2 separate regions of the Homo sapiens genome follow, and region 2 is linked to region 1. Evidence: fine-mapped expression QTL. Tissue or cell type: cerebellum. Region 1 holds a variant in brackets; the other region holds the start of a gene. All regions are shown on one strand. Distances are between the middles of the regions.

Region 1 (4,237 bases):
TCCCACAGGGAGCGCTGGAGCTGGGTGGCCCTTCAGAGTTGTCCTGAATTAAGGTAAGGGGGTTGGGCCTTTGATTCTACTCATAGACCAGTTGTAGGATTTGGGCTGTCCCCAGGGAGTGTACATAACTTGGGCCAGGCAGTACCCTTTGGGGGAAGGAGGGAAATTCTAGGGAGGGAACTGTAAGCTGTCAGCAGGTAACATTCTTGACCACTCGGTAAATAAGTGCCTTGGCTGTGTCCTGTAGAGGGCTCTGCATGATACACCACAGCATCTCCTACATATCTGGTACAGACACCAGAAAGACTGAGCAGAAATGTTCTCTTACTCCCCTCTTTTCCCAGCACCTCCCAGAGTGCACATTGTAGGCACTTCGTAAATATTGTTGGATAAATAGCCATAGACTCCAGGGACCCAACTGAGGCAAAGATGCCCCCACCACATCTTCAGTTTACAACTCCATTCAAATAAATCACTGTTATCTCTAGAGCTAGCAGGTATTGTTTACACCCATAGATTTGCTTCAAAACAGGGGAGAAAGGGTGATACAGCATTGGGAAAGTTTCTTAACTCTTTGGGAAAATAATTAAAGTTATAGCCATTACAGCTTTACTGCATAACAAGCAACATAATAATTTCAGGTGGTTAAAGGGTTAAATACAAAAGAATTTAAACCGTAAAAGAATGAGCAGAACATTCTAGGAGAACGTTTATATCAACTTGGGGTGGTTAGGCCTTTCTACACATTACTAAGCATTCAAGCATTTCTAAGCAAAAACTAAGGAAAAGATTAATGAATTTGATTAGTTAAAAACAAATTCCTCACTGGGTTAAAAAACATCAAAAGCAAAATTAAAAGGCAAATGAGACACTGGGGAAAATATAATAAACATATATTATAGACAAAAGGTTGATGTACAAGAAGAGTTCTCAGAAGTCAAAAAGGAAAAGATAAGCACCCCCATAAAAAATAGGCAATTGACATCAATAGGCAATTCACGAAAGAAAAATTACAGATAGACAATACACATATAAGAAAAAATTTAATCTCACTGGAAACAAAGATATGCAAATTAAATCAACAACAAGTATAGGGAATTGGGCATTCTTGTACACTGCTGGAGGGAGCTTAAATCGGTGTAATCTTTTTAGAGGGCAATTTGGCAATATCTGTCAAAAGCCTTAAAAATGTGCATCCATAGCCTTGACTCAGCAATTTTACTTTTAGGAATTTGTCTTAATGATCAAGGGGAATATATGTGCAATTATGTATGTATAAGTATATTCAATAAAGCATTATTTATGTTAATGAAAACTAAAAATAACCTGCATATCCAACCACAGGCAGTTGGCTAAATAAATTATGAAATATCCATAATAAGGGATACTATGGAATAATTAAAACAAAGTTGTAGAAGAATATTTACTGACATAAGAGAATATAATGTATGGCTGAGTGAAAAAAAGCAGGCCATAAAACAATATAGACAACACTATGAATGTGTGTGTGTGTATATACCTAGAAACATGTATTTTCCAAATGTTAACTTGATTTTTCACTTGGCAGTGGGTTACTGACTTTTATTTCCTTTGTATTTTCCTGTGTGCAGTCCAAATTTTCTAAATTAACCAAGAATTACTTTGTATTTAGAAAGTAAAGTGCCAAAATAATGGGATTTGGCAGAATTAGCAAAAATAATGAAATTATTAGTATTATTTGCATCAGGACTGGACCCTCAACTCTGAGAGAAGCCAGACTTGGATTCATCTCATGTTTGGCGCTGAGGACTGATAGCC[A/G]GAGAGGAACTCACCTGAGTACCACAGAAGACTCCCAGCATGAAGCAATTGTTAGTATGAGACCATCTGTTGTTTGAGGGCAGGGATGAGTCCCGGGCATCTCTGCGACTAGCACAGGACTGGCAATGAGCTGAATGAAGGTATGAATGAGCAGCATAATTAGTAAGTCTGCCTTTTAACCTCACATCTCTCATGCAAAACTTACTGCACGAGAAAAGAAGAGCCCCACTCCTTGCTCCCAGAAGAGTCAGCAGGATGTTCTTGTCATCAAGAACACCTGACTCAGAGCAGAGGCTGTGGTCCTACGAAGACGACCTTCCACCTTGGTTTTCTCCCTCCTGTCTGTCCCTCCCTCTGGATCTTGCTAAATTTCCCCTCCAAAAACTTTCTGTCAGCTTCAAGGTAGAGAGAGTTGGCTGCCCTACATGATGATGTCTTGAATTGACCTTGCACCCAAGGCATAACTGCATGGAACTCCTAGGACCTTAAACATAGACCATGCTGATTTAGCTTTCCTGCTGGAAGAGATGGCAACACTGTAGTTATGCTTGGGTGGATGGATGGATAGAGAGATAGATGGGTGGATATTAGGTAAGTTATCTAAAAGCAGGGGATAGAGGTACTAGAAGGCATTAGAGACTGGAAGTAGTAAATGGCTGGAAGTAACTGAGAATGTTGACTCGTGAGAACAAAGGTATTCTCTGCTATTACACCAACCACCCAACTCCGACATGTCAGCCCACCCTCTTCTTAAGGACTGAGGGACACTCCACTCATACATAGCCCTGGTGGCTCCCACAGCCCATGTTTGTCTCATGGAGAAGCTATGAAAGTCTAGCAAACTACCTCTTTTCTTGTTTCTCTCCCCACCTAGAGAGTAAAGCCCTCTGAAGGTAGTGATTTGGTTTCAGTCAATTTTCTTTCAATTGCAGGTTAAAGAAAGCCCAATCCAAACTGGATGAAGTGGAAGGAAATCTATGGCTCTTGTAACTCTTAAGTTCCAGGAAATAGGACTTGCCTCAGGTGCAGTTTGGTACAGAGGCTCAAGGAATTTCACCATGCATGTCCTGGTTTCTTTTTCTATCTCTGTACTTTTGTCTTCAAGGTTGGCTCCTTTCTCAGACAGGAATTTCCCCTGTGGTAGGAAGAGCGTTGTAGCAGTTCCAGCAGTCACACCCTCTTTGCTTCTAGCCTAGCCAAGGAAACATCTCAGATTCCCCAAGAAAGATTCATTGTACCTGCAGGTTCTGATCAGACTTTATGCTCCTCCCTGATTCAACCACCATAGCCAGTAGAAGGCCACAGTGATTGATTTAAGTTTAGGCTAGTTAAGGGGATGGTTGTCCAGAGAGAAGCAACCAGAAGAGGAGTGAGGATGCTGAGTGGCACAAGGAACAGATGCCCCTAGCAGACCATGTCCTCTTCAGTACGAGGTCCTACCACCTGGCACACAATCAGTATTGATACATGTTACTTCCACAACCCCATTCCAACAGAAAACACAGCATGAGCTTGTCACAGAAGCCCTCAAGGACTTCATGTGGCCTAGCCAGGGCTCTGTGTCCATGTGGCTTATCCCTCAGCTCCCTCTATTTCCTTTGCTGCCTTCCTGCCAGTCCCTGGCCTGTCATGCTACAGCTATGGGCAGCTGTCAGCAGGCCAGACCACCCTCCTCCTTCCAGAGCATTGGGCTGGAAATGTGTGAAATTGATGCAAACTTAGAAAACTAGGATTTGGGTTTCTCTCTCTTCCTCTCAGCATGCTTTTTGCTCAACCAGCCAGAACTGGTGGCCATCAACATACCTGCCTAAATCTGTGCCATGATAATTACCTCAGTAGCAACAGTAATAGTATTCTTATTATAACTCTTATTTTAAAGACCTACAATGGACCAAGCTCTTTAAACATATCACCACATGTCTGTGCAATAACCTTGCGAAGTAGTGTAACAGGGACCACCACAGGCTTTGCCTACCTGTAGGTACAAATGGGACCACATTACTCATAACTACTCAGATTTCACAGATTTGTTGTCCCCAAATGCTGGGGCATAATCTCTAGCCTCTTACAAATATTTCTGTGGGTTCCCAGGGGTCCTGTCATCTTGGCTCATAGTTGCTTTTCCTTGCTTTTTCCCTGCTTTTTCCCCCGGCTTTGCCAGGTTCCATGGTCTCTACTGTTGCTGTTCACCAGCAACCATGTTCCTACAGTGGAACCACCAGACACTGCATTCTCTGCCACTGCACTGGAGCCTCCACTCTGCCATTCTGCATGGCAGAAAATTTGAGGAAGAAGTCTGTCTCTTCCCCCTCTACTCTATGCCATATCTGTTAGTGAGGCCCTGATGCAGTTCTGTTTGTGCCATGATGTATTATGCAGTTGCTGAAATGGTTCCATCAATGCCCCCGCTCTCACCTACCCCCTACACTTACCACTGGAC
Region 2 (4,237 bases), 190 kb after region 1:
CTGAGGAGTTCTGGCTGCTTCGGTTGGTTCTTGGCACCCAGCAAGGCGGCGTCGGGAGGGGCGGGCATACAAGCGTGTTGGGGGTGGGGACCAGGCCCGCGATTCTGAGGAGATTCGCCCGCCCAGGGCCACCGGGCTGGCTCCCCAGCTGTGGGATGAGCTCATGCAGGGAAACCGGAACAACTTGGGGTGGGGGGAGGGAGGAAGAGTGGCATCTAGGAGGCTGCGAAAGCGTGGCTCTGGGGAGGAAGTTTTTCATGGGGAGTAGGGACAAGCCTCCACTCCTCCAGCCCTGCCCCCGCCCCCCAATTCATATCGTCAACTCCACAGCCCCTCTTCACACCCTTCCTTGGATGGAAATTCCTGGCCACGCTGACAGCCGGCCAACCTGGGTCGCCAGCCACCCCCAGCCTGGCTCGCCATCCCTACAGTCCCTCTCCACACCCTTCCCCGGAAATTCTCAGGCCCCACCGCCCGCCGGCCACTGCCCCCTTGGCCACACAGATGCCAACGCTCCGTTTTGGCCAAATCAGGCTGCCCTAAGCCCGGAGCACAGCTTCTCTGGGGTGTGTCGGCAAAGGGGGCGGGGGTGCCCATCGCAGGTGCCTTTCCACTGCACGCGCCAGCAGAAGCCTCCTCTCTGGACCTTGCCCCTCCCAGTTTCCTCCAGCCTCCCCCCATGAAGCGTCTCTTCCCTCTCGCCGAGAGTTTGGCGTAGACAGCGAAGGAGCCATCGTGACTGGCGGAGAAGCCTGGAGTAGACGAGACAGAGACGGCGACCGAGTCGGGTGGGGGATGGGGTGGGGACCGACACTAAGCCCTTGGGGCCTAGAGGCAGCCGCTACTGGGGAGAGGTGGGGAGCAGCTCACGTCCTTGGGAAGAACTCTCTTGGTTTGGGGCCTTGGCTGGGAGGAGGAAGGGGAGAAGAAGAAGTAGGATCCGATTATTTAAATTTGGGGATAAATTGTACTAGTAACTCTTGCACCGTCCTTCCACCAACCTCACTCCCCACCCCCAACTCGCGTGCACACAGGGACCGCCTCTGCCACCCTGAGATTTTTGTCTTAGGGTAGGAGTGGGACCGCACTGGGTCAAATGAACCGGTTCCCCCCCCTCCCCACCCCACACACAACCCCCCTCCACCGCCCTCCAATTCTTAACCCTGCCTCTGTCTACGCACACACGCCCCTCTCCTGGGATGGGGTAGGAGGCTATTGTGAATGAGGCTCATAAGCATCGCCCCCGGCCCTAGATGGCAAGTTCAAAGCCACCACCCAAGATCAGCTGGTAAGAGCCAAGACTTGGGGAACGCGTCCTTCTTTGGTTACCTTTTCCCAGACAGGATTCCAATTTCCAAACGTGGAAGAGGTGTGCGTGTATGTGCCTGTGTGTGTGAGTGCGTGTGTCTCTGTCACTGTGTGTGTGTGTGTGTGTTTGTGTGTGTGTGTGTGGAGAGGGGGGTGTATTAATGGGTGATGTTATAAATGAAAACAGGAGGACTGAACTTAAAAGAAACTGGTCAATTGCAAAACAGACACGGATAAACAACCCTTTAGATGTAATTTGTGGTTTATCTGGAGGTGGAGGTGGCGCTGAAGAGGAACCCCCGCCCCCCAATATTTTATCCTTAGCTGCGCCTCCACCCCCAGCATTTGGAGCGGCGGAGAAGCGGCTCCGGAGTGATTAATCCGGGGATAATTCACCCCCTCCCGCCCCCCGGCGCGAACCCCGCGAAGCGGGATTGGAGCGAGTCATTTCCGAGAGCGCAGCGCGCCTCTCCCCGGCCGGGCGGACACTTGGTTCATTCCAGCCGCAGAAGCTCAGGGCTCCCGCGTACCGGGATTTTTTCCGAGCAGAAAAAAGCTCCAGAGCTCTCCTGACCTCCTTTCTCCTCGGCGGCGAGCGGAGCCTCTCCCTCGGCGCTGCCGGCCGCGCCATGCCGCGCTCGCGGGGACGGGAGCTGGGGCGCTGCGGCTGCCCCGCGGGGAGGGCTCGCGGCGAAACCGGGATTTCGGCGCTTGTGCCGGGCGCCGGGAGCCGCTGGGGCCGCCCGCCGCCGCCAACGCCGCCGCCTCTGCTGCTGTTGCTGGGCTGTGGGTTGCTCAGCGTCTCGGCCGCCGCGGGTGAGTCCAGCCGCGCCGAGGAGCCAGCGGCCGCCGCGCGCCCCACCCGAGCCCCGAGCCCACCCATCCTCGACCCGGTCCCAGTCCCTCCCCCCGCCTCTATCCCTGCCTGAATCTCCCACCCTCCCAGTTGCCTACTCTCATTCTCATCCCTGCCTCCGTCTCCCACCCCACCCTCAGCCACGTCCTCACCTCCACCCTCACCCTCACTGCTGCCCCAACCCCAGCCGCAACTTGGACGGATGCGGCCGGTGTGGGGGCCTGGGAGACAGACATCCCCGCCCGGGGTTGCGGGGCACCTGGTCTGTGGCTTCAGTTTCTCCAGCCTCCCAGCCCCCACGGTGCTAGGCTTTTTCCCGATAAACTTTCCGGGAGCCCTACTCCCCCGGCTCCTGATTCTGCCAGGCACGCTGGTCCTGGGGGCTGGAGAGGAACCGTGCGCCCCCTCCCCATTTCTGCGTCTGCAAGGTCTGCCCTTCCCTGCCCCCGCCCATTTTCTCCAATTGAAACCGGTGCCCCCTCTGGAACCGACTGCAGACTGCGGCCGCCATCCCCCTCCTCAAATGCTACCCCTCCCTCGGCGCTCGGAGCTAGGAGGGGGTTCAGGTGGACGCGTGCCCACGGTGGGGGTCCCGCGCATTCCTTGCAGGAGGGTGCAGGTGGGGGCTGGAGGGTGTTGAGGGATGGGAAGGAGGGGGTGGGGGTTGTAGCCCGAGGCGGGGGAGGGAGTGCCGCCGCCAGGCTTCGCGCTGCCACATTCCCCTCGGTGCTCACTCCGCGCCAAAGTGCCCTTTCCCGCGCCCTGCTGCAGCCGAGCGCCTCGGCTGCGGCAGCGGCAGCGGCGGCGCGGGCGGCGGGACCAGCTCCCGACGACCGAGTCCGGGAAGGGGCAGATCTAGCGGGTGCGGAGAGTCCCGGAACTTCGCGGGTGTCTGGCTGCAGCTTGCAGCGCGCGGGGGAGGTACGCGAACCTTCGAGGGAACCCGGTCCCCTGTGGAGGCTACTGGCCGCGACTGGTGCCCTCCCGCTTTACCCACAGCACCCCTCCGAAGCTCAGTTCTAGCTACAAGCTAGAAAGTTCCGTGTGCCCGGGTGGAGACGGGTCCAAACCGGGATGCCTGGAACCGCATTTTCATTTAGCCCGCGAGGCTGACACCCACTGGGGGAGAAACCGAAACACCTGCTGGCCAGGCCTAGACCTAGGGCACCTTCGACCTGGAGCCGTGTTTTCTTTTTTGTTTTTGTTTTTGTTTTGTTTTGTTTTGTTTTGAAACCACCGATTGAACCTCTGAAGGCTTGGCCTGGACCACCCCAGTTCCCCTTCTTGGGAAAGTGCGCCTCTCCTCTGGCAGGTCAGTGAGTGGCGAGCTCTCTGGCCCACTCTGGCCTTCAGCGTCTTGTGAGTCTGTCCTCGCAGACCGTGTCGCCCACCGCTTAACCGCGGCATGTTGGGGTTCTTGGTCAGGGAGGGCGCCCCGAGCCAGCTCTGGCTCTCTCATTCCTAGCTGACGGGACTTTCTTAGGTTCTGCTAAGAGTCATAGCCACCGACACCCAGAGAGGGGCGCCCGCGGTGCGCGCGCCTGGGAGCTCTGGCCTCTCGCACACCCACACCCACTGGGAGGCTGTGCATACCGACGCTGCTGGTCACCCAGACTTGCCACATGGGCGGTGGGGGAATCGCTGCTACCTCCCGCCAGGCCTCCCGGACGTACGTTGAGGCGAGGCCGGTCTCTGGCTTAGCTGATTGGAGAATGTCTCGGCATCGGACTGAATTGTTTTTCTGGCTAGATTTGTCCCTGCCCCTTGGGCATATCCTGCCCCTAGGGGAGAGAAAAAGGCCGACTCACCGGCGCTTGCACCGCTCAGCGGTGCTGGAATCCTGCCCTATAGAGATCCATTTGCTCGCAGCTCCTTGCTCAGTAGAGAAGTTGCGGGGAGGGGGCCTTGTGTTCATGGCTTGGGGTAGTTCCTCTCCGGCAGGCCCTGCTCTGGCTTGCAAGCTTCCAGTACATTTCTTTTCTTTTCTTCTCTTTCTTTTTAAATTTTTTTTAAGACGGAGTTTTGCTCTTCTCGCCCAGGCTGGAGTGCAATGGCGCGGTCTCAGCTCACTGC

Alleles and levels. Positions count from the first base shown, and alleles are read on the strand shown. Sizes are in standard deviations (SD) of each study's normalised expression.
For the expression in cerebellum of the gene that starts at base 1,805 in region 2, G is the low allele of the variant in region 1 and A is the other (moderate effect, 0.43 SD a copy in GTEx).

What was found. PIP is the estimated chance that this variant, and not a neighbour inherited with it, causes the effect.
Region 2: CSMD2 starts here. The variant in region 1 is the best candidate, but not a certain one, in a credible set for the expression of CSMD2 in cerebellum (GTEx, PIP 0.51).

The regions. Positions count from the first base shown.
Region 1 is chr1:34,350,566-34,354,802 of GRCh38, reverse strand. No RefSeq gene overlaps it. Among named protein-coding and RNA genes, the nearest start is that of C1orf94, 180 kb to the right of the region's middle. The variant A/G (reference allele first, on the strand shown) is at 1,798.
Region 2 is chr1:34,162,798-34,167,034 of GRCh38, reverse strand. It overlaps CSMD2 (CUB and Sushi multiple domains 2), which reads left to right and starts at 1,805. Exons shown (of 71, transcript NM_001281956.2): 1 at 1,805-2,124. The coding sequence starts at 1,938. It also overlaps a transcript of C1orf94 not described here. RefSeq lists enhancers at 3,295-3,354, 3,775-3,904.